Linked DNA regions of Homo sapiens: all the other regions are linked to region 1. The links come from fine-mapping of genetic effects on gene expression. A gene starts in region 1. Each other region holds a variant in brackets. All regions are shown on one strand. Distances are between the middles of the regions. Region 1 holds the start of IRAK2 (interleukin 1 receptor associated kinase 2). Region 2 overlaps IRAK2 (interleukin 1 receptor associated kinase 2). Region 3 overlaps IRAK2 (interleukin 1 receptor associated kinase 2). Region 4 overlaps IRAK2 (interleukin 1 receptor associated kinase 2).

Evidence for each region.
Region 2: its variant is fine-mapped to the expression of IRAK2 in fibroblasts (GTEx, PIP 0.95).
Region 3: its variant is fine-mapped to the expression of IRAK2 in whole blood (TOPMed, PIP above 0.99).
Region 4: its variant is fine-mapped to the expression of IRAK2 in lymphoblastoid cells (GEUVADIS, PIP 0.95).

Annotation. Positions count from the first base shown.
Region 1 is chr3:10,162,405-10,167,552 of GRCh38, forward strand. It overlaps IRAK2 (interleukin 1 receptor associated kinase 2), which reads left to right and starts at 2,515. Exons shown (of 13, transcript NM_001570.4): 1 at 2,515-2,644. The coding sequence starts at 2,551. RefSeq lists silencers at 2,350-2,479, 2,680-2,829.
Region 2 is chr3:10,210,783-10,215,930 of GRCh38, forward strand. It overlaps IRAK2 (interleukin 1 receptor associated kinase 2), which reads left to right. Exons shown (of 13, transcript NM_001570.4): 5 at 2,425-2,619; 6 at 2,702-2,766. Among named protein-coding and RNA genes, the nearest start is that of TATDN2, 35 kb to the right of the region's middle. The variant C/T (reference allele first, on the strand shown) is at 2,107.
Region 3 is chr3:10,223,787-10,228,934 of GRCh38, forward strand. It overlaps IRAK2 (interleukin 1 receptor associated kinase 2), which reads left to right. Exons shown (of 13, transcript NM_001570.4): 10 at 2,585-2,647. Among named protein-coding and RNA genes, the nearest start is that of TATDN2, 22 kb to the right of the region's middle. RefSeq lists enhancers at 1,518-2,300, 2,476-2,525 and a silencer at 2,639-2,933. The variant T/C (reference allele first, on the strand shown) is at 2,204.
Region 4 is chr3:10,188,078-10,193,225 of GRCh38, forward strand. All of the region lies in intron 2 of IRAK2 (interleukin 1 receptor associated kinase 2), which reads left to right. Among named protein-coding and RNA genes, the nearest start is that of IRAK2, 26 kb to the left of the region's middle. RefSeq lists enhancers at 1,526-1,605, 4,105-4,414. The variant C/CA (reference allele first, on the strand shown) is at 3,217.

The sequences.
Region 1 (5,148 bases):
GATTTCAGCTTCCTCCTTTTGCAGCGCTACTCCATAGCTGACGGCCACAGCTATACAGTGGTACCTACTCTAGTTACTTATCTGCCCTTCGTGACCTCGCCTAACCTCTTGGAATCTATTTACTTCTGTGTAAAATGGGGATAATAATATCTATAGTATAGGCTTGTAAGAATGACATAAGATCATTTTTGCAAAGTACATTGTAGATACAGATAAATGTATCTGTATCTACAATATACTTTAGCCAGTGGTGATGGAGAGCCTGGGGTCAGAATACTTAGGTTCAAATGATTTTAGCCATATTATTTAACCTCTCTGTGCCTTAGTTTCCTTATTTGTAGAATGGGGCTATAACCATACCTACCTCAGAGGGTCATTGTAAGGAGTAAGTAAAGTAACCCAGGTGAAGGCTACACATAGTAAGTGCTCAATAAATACTAGCTATTTTATATATGTGTGTGTGTATTTTATATATATATATATATATATATATATATATATATATGTATACACACACTATAAATTCTGTTCCTTGTACCCTCTTTGTTTATTTAGAGACAGGGTCTCACTCTCACCCAGGCTGGAGTGCAGTGGTGCAATCTTGGCTCACTGCAATCTCCACCTCCTGGGCTCAAGTGATCCCCCTACCTTAGCCTCCCAAGTACCTGGGACTACAGGCACATGCCACCATGCCTGGCTAATTTTTGTAGAGACAGGGTCTTGCTCTGTTTCCCAGGCTGGTCTCGAATTCCTGGGCTCAAGCGATCTGCCTGCCTCTGCCTCCCAAAGTGCTGGGGTTATAGGTGGGAGCCGCCGCACCCAGCCCCTTATACCCTATTTAATAATCCAGTTTGTCCTGCAGTCCCCTGCACCATACTCTGCTTTTTTCCCAGTAATAGTATCATCTAAGATAATGCAATTGGCCACTTGCACTCCCTTTTACCACCCTCTACTTTTATTCTTTCTTTTCTTTCTTTTTTTTTTTTTTTTTTTCAGAGACAGGGTCTCATTCTGTCACTCAGGCTGCAGTGCAGTCATAGCTCACTGCAGCCTCAAACTCCTGGGTTCAAGAGATCCTACCACCTTAGCCTCCTGAGTAGCTGGGACTATAGGTGTACACTACCATGCTTGGCTCATTTTAAAATTTTTTGTAGAGGCCAGGCGTGGTGGCTCATGCCTGTAATCCTAGCACTTTGGGAGGCCGAGGCAGGCGGATCACGAGGTCAGGAGTTCAAGACCATCCTGGCCAACACAGTGAAACCCTGTCTCTACTAAAAATACAAAAATTAGCTGGGCGTGGTGGCGCGTGCCTGTAATCCCAGCTACTCGGGAGACTGAGGCAGGAGAATTGCTTGAACCGGGACCTGGGAGGCAGAGGCTGCAGTGAGCCAAGATTGCGCCACTGCACTCCAGCCTGGGCTACAGAGCAAGACTCCGTCTCAAAAAAAAAAAGTTTTTTGTAGAGATAAGATCTTCCTATGTTGCCCAGGCTTCTACTTTCATTCTCCAACATAGCTTATCTGCCTATTTTTATTGCTTGTTGTCTGTCTCCCTCCAGGACAAGGATTTTGTCCTTCTCTTCAGAGGTATTCCCAGCACCTACAACAGTGCCTGGCACATAGTAGCTGCACGATACATATTAGCTACTATAGTAAAGTCTACCTGACTACCCTATTTAATAGAATATTCCCCATGCTCAATCTGAATTCCTGATTCCCTTTAACCAACTTTTTTTCCTTTTTTTTTTTTTTTGCAATAGTGCTTATTACCTTTAAGACACTCTGTAACATACTATATTTATTATTTATTGTTAGTCTTTCTCTCCACACCTAGATTGTAAGTCTTATGAAAGCAAGGGCTTTTGTAGGCTTTTTTTTTTTTTTTTTTTTTTTTTTGAGACAGAGCCTCACTCTTCACCCAGGCTGGAGTACAAGGGCACAATCTGGGCTTACTGCAACCTCCGCCTCCAGGGTTCAAGCGATTCTTCTGCCTCAGCCTCCCAGGTAGCTGGGACTACAGGCGTGCGCCACCGTGCCCGGCTAATTTTTGTATTTTTAGTAGTGACGGGGTTTCACCATATTGGCCAGGCTAGTCTCGAACTCCTGACCTCGTGATCCGTCCGCCTCGGCCTCCCAAAGTACTGGGATTACAGGAGTGATCCACCGCGCCCGGCTGTAGGGTTTCTTATTCAGGTATTACCAACACCTAGGGAGTTGCCTGGCATACAGTAGGTAATTAATGGAGTATTTGATGAGCGCATGATGCATGGTGTAGTGCCGATGGAAGTGGGGTCAGAAGGCCTCCTGCCGCTGCGGCAGAATTCCCGTGTGGCCTTCTCCCACCAGGGCCTCAGTTTCCCCTCGCAGTTCCGATTCTCTGGCCGGCGCTGGGGTGGAGCCGGCGGGGCCGTCGTGCCGCCCGTGGCCGCTGGGGACGCTGGTGCCCTCCCGCCCCGCCCACTTCCCCGCCGGTCCGCCCCTGGCTAGAGAAGCCGCAGCCCGCAGTGTCCGACCCAGTCGTCCCGCGCCGGAGCCGGCCCCGTAGCGTGCCATGGCCTGCTACATCTACCAGCTGCCCTCCTGGGTGCTGGACGACCTGTGCCGCAACATGGACGCGCTCAGCGAGTGGGACTGGATGGAGTTCGGTGAGTGCGGCCCGGGGAGGGGAGGGGACCAGGGCGACCGGAGCCCCCAGCGATCCCGCCTGGAGCGGCCGCCAAGCTCCCTCGGGCACCCGGGTTCAGCGGGTCCCGATCCGAGGGCGTGCGAGCTGAGCCTCCTGGACCGGGTCCGCCGCGGACCTCGGCCTGTCACCTGAAGGTGCCGCGTGGTCTCTGAGGACGTCTGTCGACGAGCAGGGGCCGCCGCCACTGCGCTCTGAGTCCAGAGAACGGTGGGTACGGGGGCCCTCCTGTCAGCGCTGCTGGCTCGGTGACGTCCCCAGGTGGCCTCTCATCCAGCCCACAACAGCCTGCAAAGTGCGAGCCTCGACCCTGTAGGGACCCACGGTGCTGTCACTTCTTGGGGGGGTGTGTGTGTGTGTGTGTGTGGTGTGTTTAGTTTTAGTGTATATTAGAAGGATCTATGATTTAACATATATATATATATTGAAACGGAGTTTCGCTGTTGTTGCCCAGGCTGGAGTGCAATGGCACGGTCTCGGCTCACTGCAACCTCCACCTCTGGGATTCAAGCGATTTTCCTGCCTCGGCCTCCCGAGTAGCTGGGATTACAGGCGCCCGCTACCACCCTGGCTAATTTTTTGTATTTTCAGTAGAGACCGGGTTTCACCATGTTGGCCAGACTGGTCTTGAACTATTTTTTTTTTTTTTTTTTTTTTTTTTTAAGACGGAGTCTCACTCTGTCGCCCAGGCTGGAGTGCAGTGGCGCGATCTAGGCTCGTTGCAAGCTCCGCCTCCCGGGTTCACGCCATTCTCCTGCCTCAGCCTTCTGAGTAGCTGGGACTACAGGCGCCCGCCACCACGCCCGGCTAACTTTGTATTCTTAGTAGAGACGGGGTTTCACCGTGTTAGCCAGGATGGTCTGGATCTCCTGACCTTGTGATCCGCCCACCCTGGGCCTCCCAAAGTGCTGGGATTACAGGCATGAGCCACCGCGCCCGGCCTCCGGAACTCTTGATCTCAGGCGATCCACCTGCTTCGGCCTCCCAAAGTGCTGGGATTACAGGCGTGAGCCACTGTGCCCAGCCTATTTATCATATTTGTGATTAAATGTACTTTACCATTATAGTTTTAAAATCAGATATTTACTTTTAGTGTACATTGTTTTGATCACAGTATTTATGACTATCAACCTGTTTTGAGATCAGATGTGTCCTAATAGATTCAGTGTGTATAATGGGGCCTAAGCACAAGCACTTACTTTCACTCTATTGCAAGGTGCACAGTTCTAGATAATTCCGTGGGAAGGCACTCAGACAGCCTCCATATGTTTTGTTTGTTGGTGCCTGACGGATGACTGGCGGAGAGGGCCATGGACTCTGCGGGGAGGCCGCTTGCCTGTTGTCTCTGCTTTCCAGGTGGAGATCTGCATTCCAGGCTCTTGCTGTATGACTTTGGGCCAGTTTGTTAACCTCTCTGAGCCTCAGCTTCTGAATCTGTATGTAAACTGGAGATGATAATTATAGCTTCTTCATAAAGTTGTGAGGAATGAAAATACTGTATAAAAGCACTGACACCTAAGTGTTAAATATTCTTATAAGTCATAAGTTGTAATATTCTCTTTTCATTTTTATTTTTTTGAGACAGTCTCATTCTGTGGCCCAGGCTGGAATGCAGTGGCGAGATCTCGGCTCACTGCAGCTTCCGCCTCTTGGATTCAAGTGATTCTCTTGCCTCAGCCTCCCGAGTAGCTGGGATTACAGGCATGTGCCACCACGCCCACTAATTTTTATGTTTTTAGTAGAGATGGGGTTTCGCCATGTTGGCCAGGCTGGTCTCGAACTCCTGACCTCATGTGATTTGGCCGCTTTGGCCTCCCAAAGTGCTGGGATTACAGGCGTGAGCCACTGCTCCTGGACCTGGCTTCACTACTTTGAATGTTTCCTGGGCAGTGAACAAACTTTGTGTGAGACTCCCTCTCATTTTTTCCACATTGGCCCAGCCCTCAGTTACAAATGCCAGAACAACTTCTGTTTCTAGGAAATTCAATTAGAAGGCATACCTATGACTTAAAAAAAAAATAAAGCTTTACTGAGATATTCACATACCATACAATCCACCTGTTTCAGGAGTACAATTTAGTGGTATTTAGTATATTCACAGGGCTGTGTATCCATCTTCACAATCAATCTTAGAACATTTTAATCACCCGAAGAAGAAACTCTGTACCCGTTAACTTCCAATCCCCTCCTTCCATTTTCCTGAGTTTTAGACATTGCCTATTTTGGACATTTCATATAAATGGAATCATATAATATATAGTGCTCTGTGACTGACTTGTTTCAACTAACATGAGGTTCATCCATGTTGTAGCATGCGTCAATACTTAGTTTCTTTTTTTTTTTTTTGAGACGGAGTCTCGCTTTGTCACCCAGGCTGGAGTGCAGTGGCGCAATCTCGGCTCACTGCAAGCTCCACCTCCTGGGTTCATGCCATTCTCCTGCTTCAGCCTCCCTAGCAGCTTGGAC
Region 2 (5,148 bases), 48 kb after region 1:
GGGAGGTTCACTTGAGCCCAGTACTTTGAGACCAACCTGGGCAACAGTGTGAGATCCTGTGTCTACAAAAAAGTTTTTTTTGTTTTTGTGTTTTTTTTGAGGAGTCTCGCTCCATTGCCCAGGCTGGAGTGCAGTGGCACGATCTTGGTCACTGTAACCTCTGCCTCCCAGGTTCAAGCTATTCTCCTGCCTCAGCCTCCTGAGTAGCTGGGATTACATGCACATGCCAGCATGTTTGGCTAATTTTTTTTTGTATTTTTAGTGGAGACAGGGTTTCGCCATGTTGGCCAGGCTGGTCTTGAACTCCTGGCCTCATGTGATCCGCCCACCTCAGCATCCCAAAGTGCTGGGATTACAGGCATGAGCCACCGTGCCTGGCCAAAAAGTTTTTTTGAGACAAAGTCTCCCTCTGTTGCCCAGGCTGTCTCGACTCACTGAAACCTCTGGTTCCCCAGTTTAAGCGATTCTCCTGCCTCAGCCTCCTGAGTATCCGGGATTATAGGTGTGTGCCACCACGCCTGGCTAATTTTTGTATTTTTAGTAGAGACACGGTTTCACCATATTGCCCAGGCTGGTCTTGAACTCCTGGCCTCAGAGGATCCGCCTGCCTTGGCCTCCCACATATGGTGAGATTACAAGCAGTGAATCACTGTGCCTGGCCTCGCCAAAAAAAAAAGTTTAAAAAATAAGCCAGGCGTGGTGGCACACACCTGTAGTCCCAGCTACTTGGGGGCGCTGAGATGAAAGGATCCCTTGAGCCTGGGAGGTTGAGGCTGCGGTGAGCTGACATCATGCCATTGCACTCCAGCCTTGGTGTCAAAGTGAGACCCTGTCTCAAAAAGAAATCAAAACTATGTGTGTGGCATGATACCAGTTTTGTTAAATAAATCCTAGTATATCTAATTGGCCGGAAATACACTAACTTTAATAGCAGTTAAATGGATAATGGGGTTATGGATACTAATTTTCAAAAACTGTTAAGAGCATATGTAACTTAAAAAAATTGAAATTTAGGCCGGGCGCGGTGGCTCGTGCCTGTAATCCCAGCACTTTGGGAGGCCAAGTCGGGCGGATCACGAGGTCAGGAGATGGAGACCATCCTGGCTAACACGGTGAGGCCTCATCTCTACTAAAAAAATTACAAAAAATTAGCCGGACAGGGTGGTGGGTGCCTGTAGTCCCAGCTGCTCGGGAGACTGAGGAAGGAGAATGGCGTGAACCTGGGAGGCGGAGCTTGCAGTGAGCCGAGATCACACCACTGCACTCCAGCCTGGGTGACAGTACGAGACTCTGTCTCAAAAAAAAAAAAAAAATTACGTACATGTGTTTTAAAGAGAGAAGTTATTAAAAACGGAAACAGAACTTCTTTTTATAGGCTTATATACACATGCAGTCTCTGGAATTCTGTTTAAAGCAAGCTTGTCTTACTTGCCCATGGTTGTGTGCAGCCCAGGATGGCTTTGAATGTGGCCCAACACAAATTTGTAAAGTTTCTTAAAACATTATGAGTTTTTTTTGCAATTTTTTTTTTAAAGCTCATCAGCTATCATTAGTATTAGTGTATTTTATGTGTGGCCCAAGACAATTCTTCTTCCAGTGTGGTCCAGGGAAGTCAAAAATTGGACACCCCTGGTTTGGTTATATGAACCTGTATCCTACTTCCCAGGAGTCTGGAACCCCAGTATCTATGCTGTGAATTAGACCAAGAGTGCTGAGCTCGGCCACTGACCAGCTGTGGGACCTCACTTCAGCTGTTTTATTTCCTCAGTGCTTACTTCTGTAAACTGAAATAAAGGAAACATCAACCATGTGCCAGGAATACTCACATCTTAGTCTTCAAAATTACTCTTCGGGGTACTATTGTTACCTTCATTTTTGCTGATGGAAAAAATTGAGGCTCAGAGAGGTTAAGTAACTCACCCAAGGTCACAGAGCAAGATACAGATGGAGCTGGGATTTGAGCTTGGGCCTATCCATGTCCTTTTTTTTTTTTTTTTTTTGAGACAGAGTCTCGCTCTGTCACCCAGGCTGGAGTGCAGTGGCGCGATCTCGGCTCACTGCAAGCTCCGCCTCCTGGGTTCACCCCATTCTCCTGCCTCAGCCTCC[C/T]GAGTAGCTGGGACTACAGGCGCCCGCCACCACGCCTGGATAATTTTTTTTTGTATTTTTTAGTAGAGACGGGGTTTCACTGTGTTAGCCAGGATGGTCTTGATCTCCTGACCTCGTGATCCGCCCGCCTCGGCCTCCCAAAGTGCTGGGATTACAGGCGTGAGCCACCGTGCCCGGCCTATCCATGTCCTTTTTACAGTTTCCATTGGATAAGTTGATCCCCTCCATCCCTCCATCTCTGGTGTTCCAAGGTCCCTTGAGGTAGCAGAGAAAACGAGATTCCATAGTAATCTCCATCTCTTCTCTCTGGGTCTCCAGGACTTCAGCACCTCCATTCCTAAGCAGGAAAAACTTTTGAGCTTGGCTGGAGACAGCCTTTTCTGGAGTGAGGCAGACGTGGTCCAGGCAACCGATGACTTCAATCAAAACCGCAAAATCAGCCAGGGGACCTTTGCTGACGTCTACAGAGGGCACAGGCACGGGAAGCCATTCGTCTTCAAGAAGCTCAGAGAGGTGAGCACTTCTTGGTTTCTAGTGGGGGTGGAGGCTGCAGGGGTGGGGCGGGATCTTCATGTTCTGATGTCTTTCTCTACAGACAGCCTGTTCAAGTCCAGGATCAATCGAAAGATTCTTCCAGGCAGAGTTGCAGATTTGTCTTAGGTAAGCCTCCCCTTTGTTTAGTAATAATGATAGCTAACCTTTATATAGTGCTTCCTGTGTGCCCAGTCATGTTTTAAGCACTCTATTATATATAAACTCATTTAGTCCTTACAAGAACCCTATAAATGTAGCTACTATTATCACATTATTTTACAGATGGGTAAATTGAGGCACAGAGGGGTTAAATGTCTCATCCAAGGTCACACAGCTAATGAGTGGCAGAGCCAGGATTTGGATCTACCTGGTTTGGCTCCAGAGTCCATTCTTCTCCTGTGTAGCAATTCTATGTGTAGATTAGAATTATAAAGGAAACTTGGCTTACTCCAACTCCTTCCTTCCACATGGGAATAAATCTTCTCTCCTTTTTTTTTTTCTTTTCTTTTCTTTTTTTGTTTTTTGAGACAGAGTCTTGCTCTGTCTCCCAGGCTGGAGTGCAGTGGCGTGATCTCGGCTCACTGCAATCTCTGCCTACCAGGTTCAGGTGATTCTCGTGCCTTAGCCTCCCGAGTAGCTGGGATTACAGGCGTGCGCCACCAGGCCCGGCTAATTTTCATATTTTTAGTAGAGACGGGGTTTTGACATGTTGGCCAGGATGGTCTCAAATTCCTGACCTCAAGTGATCTTTCTGCTTTGGCTTCCTAAAGTGCTGGGATTACAGGCGTGAGCCACCGTGCCTGACTTTTTTTTCTTTTTTAAGAGCTAGGGTCTTGCTCTATTGCCCAGGCTGGAATGGCCTTGGAATGATTGTAGATCACTGCAGCTTTGAACTCATGGGCTGGTGATCCTCCCACCTCAGCCTCTGAGAAGCTGGGACTACAGGTGTGCGCCCAGCTCATTTTTTGCTTTTTTTTTTTTTTTTTTTTGTAGAGATAGGGTCTTGCTATGTTGACCAGGCTGGTGTTGAGCTCCCGGGCTCAAGTGATCCTCCTGCCTTGACCTCCCAAGATGTTGGGATTATAGGTGTGAGCCACTGTGCCCTGCCATGTGTGTGCTTTTTTTTTTTTTAATTATTTTTCATCTGAAACACTTGTGCCTTATATTGTAGGGTATTTTAAGAAATAAAGAAAATTGAGTATCTGTTCATTCTGTAACCAGTGTTAAAAAATAAAGAAAATTGACCAGGTATGGTGGTTTATGCCTGTAATCCTAGAACTTTGATGCTGAGGCAAGAGGATTCCTTGAGCCAAGGAGTTTGAGACCAGCTTGGGCAACATAGCGAGACCCTGTCTCAACTGAAAAAAATATATATACAAAAACTTTTTTTGGCTGGGCATGGTGGCTCGCACCTATAATCCCAGCACTTTGGGAGGCTGAGGCGAGTGGATCACTTAAGTCCAGGAGTTCAAGATCAGCTGGGCAACATGGCAAAACCCCGTCTCTACAAAAAATACAAAAATTAGCTGGGTGTGGTGGTGTATGCCTGCAGTCCCAGCTACTCAGGAGGCTGATGGGAGGATCACTTGAGCCCAGGAGGCAGAAGTTGCAGTGAGCCGAGATCATGACACTACACTCCAGCCGGGGCAACAAAGTGAGTCTCTGTCTCAAAAATAAATAAAGGCCAGGCATGGTGGCTCACACCTGTAATGCCAGCACTTTGGGAGGCCGAGGTGGGCAGATCAGTTGAGGTCAGGAGTTTGAGACCAGCCTGGCCAACATGGCGAAACCTCATCTCTACTAAAAAAAATTCATACAAAAATCAGCCTGGTGTGTTGGCATGCACCTGTAGTCCCAGCTACTCAGGAGGCTGAGGCATGAGAATCACTTGAGCCCAGAAAGTGGAGGTTGCAGTGAGCCCAGATCGCACCACTGCACTCCAGCCTGGGCAATAGAGTGAGACTCTGTCTCAAAAAAAAAAAAAAAAAAAAATTAATTAATTAATTAAAAAGTAAAACAAATTTAAAAAGGAATAAAGAAAATTATAAATAAGAAAATAGAAACTTTTTCACAGCACCTATAAATAAGCACTACTGTTTTAATATTTTGATATATTTTCATTTTTAATTGTTAAAACTTTTTTTGTAGAGACACGATCTCACTATGTTGCCCAGGTTGGTTTTGAACTCCCTGGCTCAAGTGATCCTCCTGCTTTGGCCTCCAAAAGTGTTGGGATTTTAGATGTGAGCCACTGTGCTGGGCCCATATTTTGATATGTTTTCTTTAATGCTTTCTCTATTCATACATGTATATGAATACTCACATGTGTACACACACACACACACACACACAGATACACACACACACATACATCTAATAAAAACTGGAAGTATGATTCCCTTTCCACTTTGGCTTAGTGCTTTCATGGAGTCGGCAGTCACTCCTTCATTCATTGATTCAGAAAATGTGGGTAGTTAAGCCCTTTTCTAGGCTCTAGGGAGTGTACGC
Region 3 (5,148 bases), 61 kb after region 1:
GCATACAGCTGCCCCTTGGGCCTCACCCTCTTTTCTTCTCTAGCCTTGAACTCTGTACTTCCTCTCTCTGACCACAGTCTCCTGTCTGTCTACCTCTGCTACCAGAACCGTGGCCCTGAGTCACCTCTGCCCTCAGCCAGAACCCCAGATTCTGCACCTCCGTGTCTCCCAGCTGGTTCCTCTGCCTCCCTCAGCCCCACTGCAAGTTGTTCAGTGAAGCTCAGCAGGGCTAGTCCAGGCTCCTTCTCCTTTAAGAACCAGGGGGATGGGCAGGGAGTGGTGGCACATGCCTAAAATCTCAGTACTTTGGGAGGCCGATGTGGGCAGATCACCTGAGGTCAGGAGTTCAAGACCAACCTGGCCAACATGGTGAAACCCCGGCTCTACTAAAAATACAAAAATTAGCTGAGTGTGGTGGCATGTGCCTGTAATCGCAGCTACCTGGGAGGCTGAGTCAGGAGAATCACTTGAACCTGGGAGGCAGAGGTTGCAGTAAGCCGAGATCGCGCCATTGCACTCCAGCCTGGGCAACAGAGCAAGATTCTGTCTCAAAAAAAAAAAAAAAGAAAAAAAAGAACCAGGGGGATAGAACCCCTAGGCCCGGCTCAGTTACTTTCAGCTGTGTGACTTACACCTAGCACTTCTGTCTCTGGGCCTCAGTTAAGCCTTCTGTAAGATGGGGCTAACGATACACATGGAGATGAATGGGATAATGTATATAAGCAGGTGAGCATGGCACCCTGCACCCTGCACCTACCAAGAATATTATGATGACTGTGGTTATTGTTATTCCCACCTTTACACCCTCCTTCTGATATCTGTTTACTCTTGACCTTCTAACTGGTGTGTTAGCGTCACAGATGACTTCCTCATCCATCCATTCACCCTCCCACCTATCCATCTATTCATCCACCCATGCACCCACCCTCCCACCCACATACCCATCCATCCATCCATCCATCCATCCATCCATCCATCCATCCATCCATCCATCTACCACCCATCCATCCATTCATTCATTGAATGCCTCCTGGCTCCTGCCACCCTTTTGCTCAGCCCTGCCTCTGGTTGACTGATAACGCTTTTGAACTTTGATTCCTCCTGTGGGGATCACAGTGCATTGCTCAGTGTTTTTTGGTGAGTGCTCAGTGACCTCTATAAAGGACTTGGCTCAGAGCCTGCTCTGTGAAAGGGGCACAGGAAGTCTTTGTTTATTCATTTCCCCTTGTTCTGTCCCTTCCTGGCAGGGACCTGTCAGGAGTCCCTTTTCAATTGGCTCCTGTCCCACTTGCAGCAGTGATGCCCTCTGCTGCCCTTTTCTGGTCACTGCCAGTCTGTTATTAATCCTGGGTGGTTTAAAACCTTTATCCTTTCCTTCCTCCAGGCTTGGAGGGATTCTTGGCTATAAATGTGACCCTATTCTGACTTGCTTTGAGAGATGCTGTGGGAGAGAGGTTCCACACTAAGTGTGGGGTCTTCACACCTTTAATATTCACAACTGCTAGTCCCCATTTAACAGATGAGGACACTGAGGCTCAGGTTTTAGTTACTTGCCTAAAGATCACCTGAGCATATAAGGAACAGAGTCAGAATTTGAACTCAGGCCTGACTGTAGAGCCCTTAGCCATCATAGCATTGTCTCTACTGAGAAACCCTGTTCAAAGCAGTTTCCTGTTTATGAAGACATATATCATGGTTTGCCAATTTTGTGGTGACTTACACGTATACAGGGTTGTGCTCCTTCTGCGAGTGGATGCGCTAATGAATAAATAATGTTAGTAAAGGCCTGTGAGTGAAACATGCTATGGATGCTGCAAGATTTGTCTAGAATAGATACCTGCCTGCATGCAGAGTCTTTCCTTCCCTGAGATTCACAGAGCAATGCCTGCTTGCCATAGCTGAAGGTTTTTTGGTGTTTTTTTTTTTTTTTGAGACGGAGTCTTGCTCTGTCGCCCAGGCTGGAGTGCAGTGGTGCGATCTCAGTTCACTGCAAGATCCACCTCCCAGGTTCACGCCATTCTCCTGCCTCAGCCTCCCAAGCACCTGGGACTACAGGCACCCGCCACCGCGCCTGGCTCATTTTTTTGTATCTTTAGTAGAGACGGGGTTTCGCTGTGTTAGCCAGGATGGTCTCGATCTCCTGACCACGTGATCCGCCCACCTCAGCCTCCCAAAGTGCTGGGATTACAGGCATGATCCACCG[T/C]GCCCAGCCAGCTGAAGGATTTTTAAATGAAACAATCTTTAAAAAATAGTGTATATATACGTGTGTGTGTATCTATATTTATCTATACCTATATATATCTTATGGTAATACATATAAACACACACACACATGAATTTTTGAAAACCATCTTCTCTGCCTGGCTATCAATTAATTACAACCTTCCACTGGCAGCTTGGTGGCATCTTTAATTGGAGGAGGTGTTTAGTGATATTCCCATGTTCCAGATTTTGGGCAGGTGTGTCTGCTGGCAATGGCAGAGCTGCACCTGGAGCTCAGAACTGAGAAGAGAAGACAGAATCTGCTGCCTGGCTGTGTGCACGAGCGTCTGAACCATGCTAACTCACGTTCTGTTCTCTCCAGGTGTTGGCCGAGGTCCTCACGGGCATCCCTGCAATGGATAACAACCGAAGCCCGGTTTACCTGGTAAGGGAACTTGTCACATCTGGCTGGGAGGTATATTTGGGCCTCACAGCTCTGTAGAGAGGGCAACGACCTCAATTCTAGCTAGTTTTACACATGCAAATGAGGCCCGGTACAAGGTTGCATTTGCATCCCCACAAAGCAGCTTTAACCTCCCATCCCCACCTGCCAGCCAACCATTGCTTTTTCATGATAATAGCATCTGGGGCTTGGTGCGGTGGCTCATGCCTGTGATCACAGCCTTTGGGAGACTGATGTGGGTGGATCATTTGAGACCAGGAGTTCAAGACCAGCCTGGCCAACATGGTGAAACCCTGTCTCTATTAAAAAAAAAGAAAAGAAAAAACTTACAAAAAACCCCCAACATTATCCAGGTGTGGTCGCATGTGCCTGTAATCCCAGCTACTCGGGAGGCTGAGGCAGGAGAATCACTTGAACCTGGGAGGCAGAGGTTGCAGTGAACCAAGATTATGCCACTGCACTCCAGCCTGGGTGACAGAGCGAGACTCCATCTCAAAAAAAAAAAAAAAAAAAAGATTTTGGAATGTTTATAGAAAGCACTTGTATAAAAGAGAAAGCACTTCTCTATATATCAGGCAATTCATTAGGGATTTTCCTCAAATTGATAAAAGTTAATTTCAGCCCTTTTAAACAAGTTTCTATAATAAAAACAATTTCCATTTTGTAGGCCAAAGATCTGATATACACAGTCATTTAAAAAATATAACAACCTGGCTGGGTGTGGTGGCTCACACCTCTAATCCCAGCACTTTGGAGGAGGCCAAGGCGGGCGGATCACTTGAGGCTGGGAGTTCGAGACCAGCCTGGGCAACATGGCGAAACCCTGTCTCTACTAAAAATACAAAAATTAGCCAAGCGTAGTGGCACACACCTGTAATCCCAGCTACTTGGGAGGCTGAGGCAGGAGAATCGCTTGAACCCAGGAGACAGAGGTTGCGGTGAGCCAAGATTGCACCACTGCACTCCAGCCTGGGTGACAGAGTGAGACCCTCTCTCAAAAAAGAATAAAAATATAACAACCTAGCCTGACTTTGTGTTAAATACTTTCCATACATTATCTACCTAAATCATCTCAATTTTTCCATGATAGAGTCATTATATTCATCTGCAGATGAGGAAAGCTGGCTCTGAGTTTGGCCTAGGATCTCAGTTGGAATTACCAAGTGTCAGAGCTGGAATTCTGAGTCAGATCTCCCTGAGCCGACATCATGAGTTTTTTTTTTGTTTTTGTTTTTGAGACGGAGTCTTGCTCTGTCGCCCAGGCTGCAGTGCAGTGGTGCAATCTCGGCTCACTACAAGCTCCACCTCCCGGGTTCATGCCATTCTTCTGCCTCAGCCTCCCGAGCAGCTGGGACTACAGGCGCCCACCACCACACCTGGCTAATTTTTTTGTATTTTTAGTAGAGATGGGGTTTCACTGTGTTAGCCAGGATGGTCTCAATCTCCTGACCTCGTGATCCGCCCGCCTCGGCCTCCCAAAGTGCTGGGATTACAGGATCTTGAGTTCTTAACCACAGCAGTCTCCTGCTTGTTTCTTGTGACAGTCCAACCATACGAATTCAGTATTATCATTCCCATTTACAGCTGAGAAAACTGAGGGCAAGCTGAAGTGACTTGTCTCACGCCCCTCAGTGAGACCAGTGGTGGAAGTGGGGTTTAAATTGAACCCAAGGCTTTTGCAGAGTTTCAAATCTCATCCAAACTCTAGTCTTCCTCATCAGTTTGAGAGGGGGCACCTTTTCCTACTGGGTATTGAGGCCATTGGAACAGACAGATTATTATTTTATTTATTTATTTATTTCTGGTGACTGGGCCCCAGAAGCATCCCCTGGGCTCTGGGGTAGGGAGGCTGAAGGCCTCGCTACTCCATGCAGAAAGTCACGACATGTTCCTTTGATGAACTCTGTGAGTTCCACCCCTTTTGGGCAGTCAATCCCATATGCTGCAGAGAGGTCTGTCTGGGCAGCTCAGATGTGGTTTGGGGCTGTTTGGGGGCAGTTTCTCATCTCCTGACTATTTTCTTGAGATGGATTTCCCAGCAGTCCTCTGGGGCTCCCCGGACAAGTGTCACAGTGGAAGGAGGCTTTTGAGGCACTGACAGGAAGTTGTCTAGAATTATTTTTTTGCTAATGATTTCTAAAAATGTGGAAAATAACAATTTTTTAAAATGTAGTTTCTTTCTCTTATTCTAGACTCTTGTATGGTCTCTTATCATGTTCTGTTGTGGTAGGTGCAATCCAATGGTTAATCAAGATTTGAGTCAGGGAGGAAAGCTTGCTGATTTCCTGTGGCCCAGGGTAGGAGGAAGCAGGCCTCCTCCAGGCTTGGGAAAGTGTTAGTTGCCACAGTGTTTCCTGAGGGCATTTGGTGGTTTCCACCTAAATTGAAAATATGAGTACCCTCTGACACGGCAGTTCCATTTGTGCCTAGAGAAACATGCACACATGTGAGGAGAGGCAGATGAACAAGGATATTTGTAGTGG
Region 4 (5,148 bases), 26 kb after region 1:
AGTGAGTATCCCAGCTGTGGCTCCCAGGCAAAGGAGAATCCACTATAATCAATGCTGAGCTCTAGAGCTGATTAAGTGCCACCAAAGGCTGGGTTAGGTGCTGAGCCTGTAGATGGTGGGGAGCAGATGGCTCTGGCTCTGAGGGTGGAGTCTGGAAACTGGGTGCACTGGCCTGTGAGGTGAAATTCTCCCTCTGCCCTGCCACAGGGATTTAGATATGCAGGAGCTGGACAAGAGAGTTAATAAGGAACTAAAAATACATTTTTTGTCTTTTTGAGATGGAGTCTCACGCTGTCACCTGGGCTGGAGTGCCATGGCTCGATCTCGGCTCACTGCAACCTCCGCCTCCCGGGTTCAAGCGATCCTTGTGCCTCAACCTCTGAGTAGCTGGGATTACAGGCATGCACTACCACGCCTGGCTAATTTTTGTAATTTTATTTATTTATTTATGTATTTATTTATTTTTGAAATGGAGTTTCGCTCTTGTTGCCCAGGCTGGAGTGCAATAGCGCAATCTCGGCTCACCACAACCTCTGCCTCCCGGGTTCAAGCGATTCTCCTGCCTGAGCCTCCCGAGTAGCTGGGATTACAGGCATGCGCCACCACGCCCGGCTTATTTTGTATTTTTAGTAGAGACAGGGTTTCTCCATGTTGGTCAGGCTGGTCTCAAACTCCCGACCTCAGGTGATCCCCCTGCCTTGGCCTCCCAAAGTGCTGGGATTACGGGTGTGAACCACTGTGCCTGGCCTAATTTTTGTATTTTTAGTAGAGACAGGGTTTTGCCGTGTTGGCCAGGCTGGTCTTGAATCCCTGACCTCAGTGATCCACCCGCCTTGGCCTCCCAAAATATTGGGATTATAGGCATGAGCCACTGCGCCTGGCCTAAAAATACATTTGCTGAGTGCCTACTGTGCGCTAGATGCTGGGGATGCAACCATGAAAACACAGCCAAGGTCTCAGGCCTCATGGAGCTTACAGTCCAGTGGGAGATGAATTATAAGAAGCTAACACACAGATGCATGTCACCCACTGCAGTATGAGTGCTCAAAGGATAAATGTAGGTCAGGTGGGGAGGGCAGGTAGGAGAGTGCAAGATGAGAGGATTTGATCTCATCAGGGGAAGTTTCTCTGAGGCAGTGAAACTTGAGCCTCCTCCGTAAGGAATAGTGGACCAAGAAGTGAAGGACGACACACACATATCTAGCCGGGGGGAGCAGCATGTACAAAGGCCTGGGGGTGGGCTGAGGCTGGGGACAGGGCAGGGTCAGGCCACCCAGTGCCATGCAGGCTACCGCCAAGAGTTTGCTTTCACCGGAGAGTGAAGGGAAGACGTTGGAGGGCTTCCACCTGGGAGTATCCCCTGTTTTGGCCACTATATGGACTGGGGGGCTGGGCCTGTGAGGTTCCAGATGTCAACTGAGTAGGACAGGAAGACACTTCAGGAATCCGAAGGGATTTGGGAAGTGACCAAGGTTTTCTCTTCCCATCTGTTGCTACTATCTACCTGAAGTCTTGAGTTTCACAATTTTCATGCAGTTTCTTCTTGGTTGTGCAACTCTTGACAGTTTCTAACTTTGGGTTTGGCATCTCGGCCAGAGTCATTTCCTTCCTGGAGCTGGGCTCTCATTGAGTGGAAAATTTGGGGCTGCTATGTAAAATGAAACAGAAGAGAATGAACCCTTCCTCTCCGGAAGGGGCCGGGCTGTGCCAGGTCCAGACAGGGCTTGTGTGTCTGCTCTCTTGGAAGGCTGCCCTGCCTCCGCCCCTTTCCAGCTGCTAGGGCACAACAGAACATGCCTACATCCAGACCCTGCCCACTGCAGACTTGCCACTGGAGGCGACACTGTTTTGGGCCAAAACCACAGGCCAGGGGTCAGAGCACCTGGGTTCTAGTAATAGCTTGTGTTTAGCACCTGATATGTGCCAGGTAAGCATCTTTTCTCACAACTCTTATTATCCCTATTTTATAGAAGAGGAAACTGAGGCTCAGAGATTAAGTAATTTCCCAAGGCCACATAGCCCATAGTGATGAGGCCAACATGGGAATTCAGGTCTGCCTGACCTTACCCGCTTCTTGGTAGGTTACTAGATTGCATCATCACTTGCCCCATCTGGAAAATGGGTAAAGACATTGCCCTATCTACTTTTCTTGTAGACTGGGAAGGTTCAAAGCATACGAGATGGTGAGGTTTTCTTTGTTTCTTTTTTTTTTTTTTTTTGTGAGACAGAGTCTCACTCTGTTGTCCAGGCTGAAGTGCAGTGGCATGAGCTTGGCTCACTGCAACCTCTGCCTCGTGGACTCAAGCAATTATCCTGCCTCAGCCTCCCGAGTAGCTGGGACTACTGGCGCCCACCACCACGCCCAGCTAGAGGTTTTCTTAAAGTTAATTGCTGAGTGGCTAAGGACAGGTCACTTGACCTTTTCCTTCCATGCATTCATTATTCCATTGGAAAAAAGCAAGGCTTTAATCACTGTTGGTCTCTTGAGAGTGGTGTTAGAATGAACAGAGTGTGGAATGCCTCTAAGCCAGTCCCCAGTGTTTCAGAGAGGAAGGGTAAGAGCTAGGGTGAAGTGAACCATCCTTTATTGAACTCCTGCTAGATGCTTAGCTCTTACAACTAGTCTCCTCCAGTTGCAAGTTTTGGACACATACTCAGATGATGCATTAGCCAGGATAGGCTTGGTTATGCTGCGGTATCAGATAAACCTTGAAATCTAGTTCCTCAACGCAACAAATATTGATTTCCCACTCACCTGAAGTCCAGTAAGGGTCATGCAGCCTCCTGCATTCTTGTAGCCAGCTAAGTCATCTAGAACATGTGGCTTCCAAAGTCACTGTGGCTGGGGAAGAGAGGGTTGGAAGAGGCTCACTAGCTGTTAAGTGCTTCGTCCAGGAAGTGATAGATAGCATCTTCACTTAAAATCCACTGGCTAGGCCGGGCGCGGTGGCTCAAGCCTGTAATCCCAGCACTTTGGGAGGCCGAGGCCGGCGGATCACAAGGTCAGGAGATCGAGACCATCCTGGCTAACATGGTGATACCCCGTCTCTACTAAAAATAAAAAAAAATTAGCTGGGCGTGGTGGCGGGTGCCTGTAGTCCCAGCTACTCAAGAGGCTGAGGCAGGAGAATTGCTTGAACCCGGGAGGCGGAGCTTGCAGTGAGCCGAGATCGCGCCACTGCACTCCAGCCTGGGCAACAGAGCGAGAATCTGTCT[C/CA]AAAAAAAAAAAAATCCACTGGCTAGAACCAGTCGTGACGCCCAGCCTAATTGCTAAGGAGGCAGGAGTATGAGACAGAGCAGATGGTTATTTGGTAAGTACTCTCTCAGCTACAGGTTACCTCAGTTCCAGGGCGCTTACAGTAAGGTTCTGCCTAACTGTGGCCTACAAGGCCCTGCATGGTCTACCTTTGCCCGGCTCTTCAACCTCACCTCTACCACTTTCCCCCTCAGTCATTCCCCTCAGCCACTACGGTCATCCTTCACTTGCGGGGATATGCCAAGTGTTTGCTGCCTAAGGACCTTTGCACACGTGTTCCCTCTCCTTGGAATGCTGTCTCTCCCCAGCTTCCCTACATTCTTCCATGCTAGTCCTTTTCATCCTCTGGGTGTCTGCATATGTGGCCCCTTCTCATGGCAGCTTTTCCTGGCCAGCCTATGGAAGTAGGTCCATCAGGCACCCCTCCCTCGAGTTTGTTTTCAGCATAGAGCACCTCCCAGTTTATAATTAGATGTCTTTTATTTAACTAGCTTAATGTCAGTATTACGGCAGTTTTGATAAAGGATTCCCCATTCCCTAACACAAAATGAATGAATGAATGAATGAGAAAGAATGAGTCATTTCAGCAGCAGGTGGAGTACAAGTTCAGTGGAGAACCAGGGATCGCACAATTAGGAAGGCAGGCTGTGCTCTCAGGTTTGCCTCATTTCAGGTCTAGCTTGAGTTGGGAGTGTGTGTGTGTGTGTGTGTGTGTGTGTGTGTGTGTGTTGTGTGTTGTGTGTGACTGTGTATGGCCTGGAGGGCCAAACCCAGGGATTAGGAGGGAAAGGAAAAGAGAGGGCGCGGAAAGCTGTGTTTGTCCCTGATAGAGCCAGCTGGCACGAGGGTGCTTTAGTTATAGCTGAATCACTTTTGTTTGTTCTGGAAGGGATCTATTCTGGCCACATGAGTCAGCCTAAGAACAAATTACTGTGTAGTTTGACGGGCGTGAAGGGTTGGGGGGAATTTCCAGAGTGTGCTCACCCAGGAAAGACCTTGTTGCCAGCTCTGAGTCCCCTCTGCTCCAACAGCTCCTGGATTTGCCACCGTGTGAAATGTTCTCAGGCAGCTAGTGTGACGGCCCAGGCCCCGTCAGCCAAAGGCCCAGCACCCATAAACATCCTTTAGTCCTTTCTCCTGAAGGAACTGGGCCATAAACAAGCACATAATAAATAAATCTGCATTCTAGGCTTCGCTTTCTTCAGATATAAGACAACTACCTTATACTTGGTAGCAATTATCCCCCAGAGCTGTTACCTGAATTAAATAGGCCACAGATATGGGCAAGAACTTAGGAAAAAAAGCCTGACCTAGAGTTAGAGTGGTCATTATAATAACAGTAGTAGGAGGCCAAGGCGGACGGATCACCTGAGGTCAGGAGTTCGAGACCAGCCTGGCCAATATGGCAAAACCCCGTCTCTACTAAAAATACAAAAATTAGCCGGGCGTGATGGTGTCTGCCTGTAATCCCAGCTACTCGGGAGGGTGAGGTAGGACAATCGCTTGAACCCAGGAGGCAGAAGTTGTAATGAGCAGAGATCGTGCCACTGTACTCCAGCCTGGGCAACAGAGCGAGACTATAGCAAATGATGGTAGCTTAGATCTGCTGGGTGTTAATTTTTTTATCCTCATGGCTGGTCTCGGGTCGGGGGTCCACTTCCACATCTCATTTGTCGGATGAGGAAGCCAAGGCTTAGGAGGATCCCCCTGCTGGTGAGCCTGACTGCAGGACACACTCCAGACTGCGGGAGTTCATTTGCCTTCCGTGGCATCAGTGATTCATGCTCATTAGGAAGAGCACAGGCATTCCGAAAACAAATCAGAGAGAAAAAGAAATCATGCCTGGCAACCAGCTCTGGTGAACCATGACAGGGGCACAGAGAAGCGCTTCTG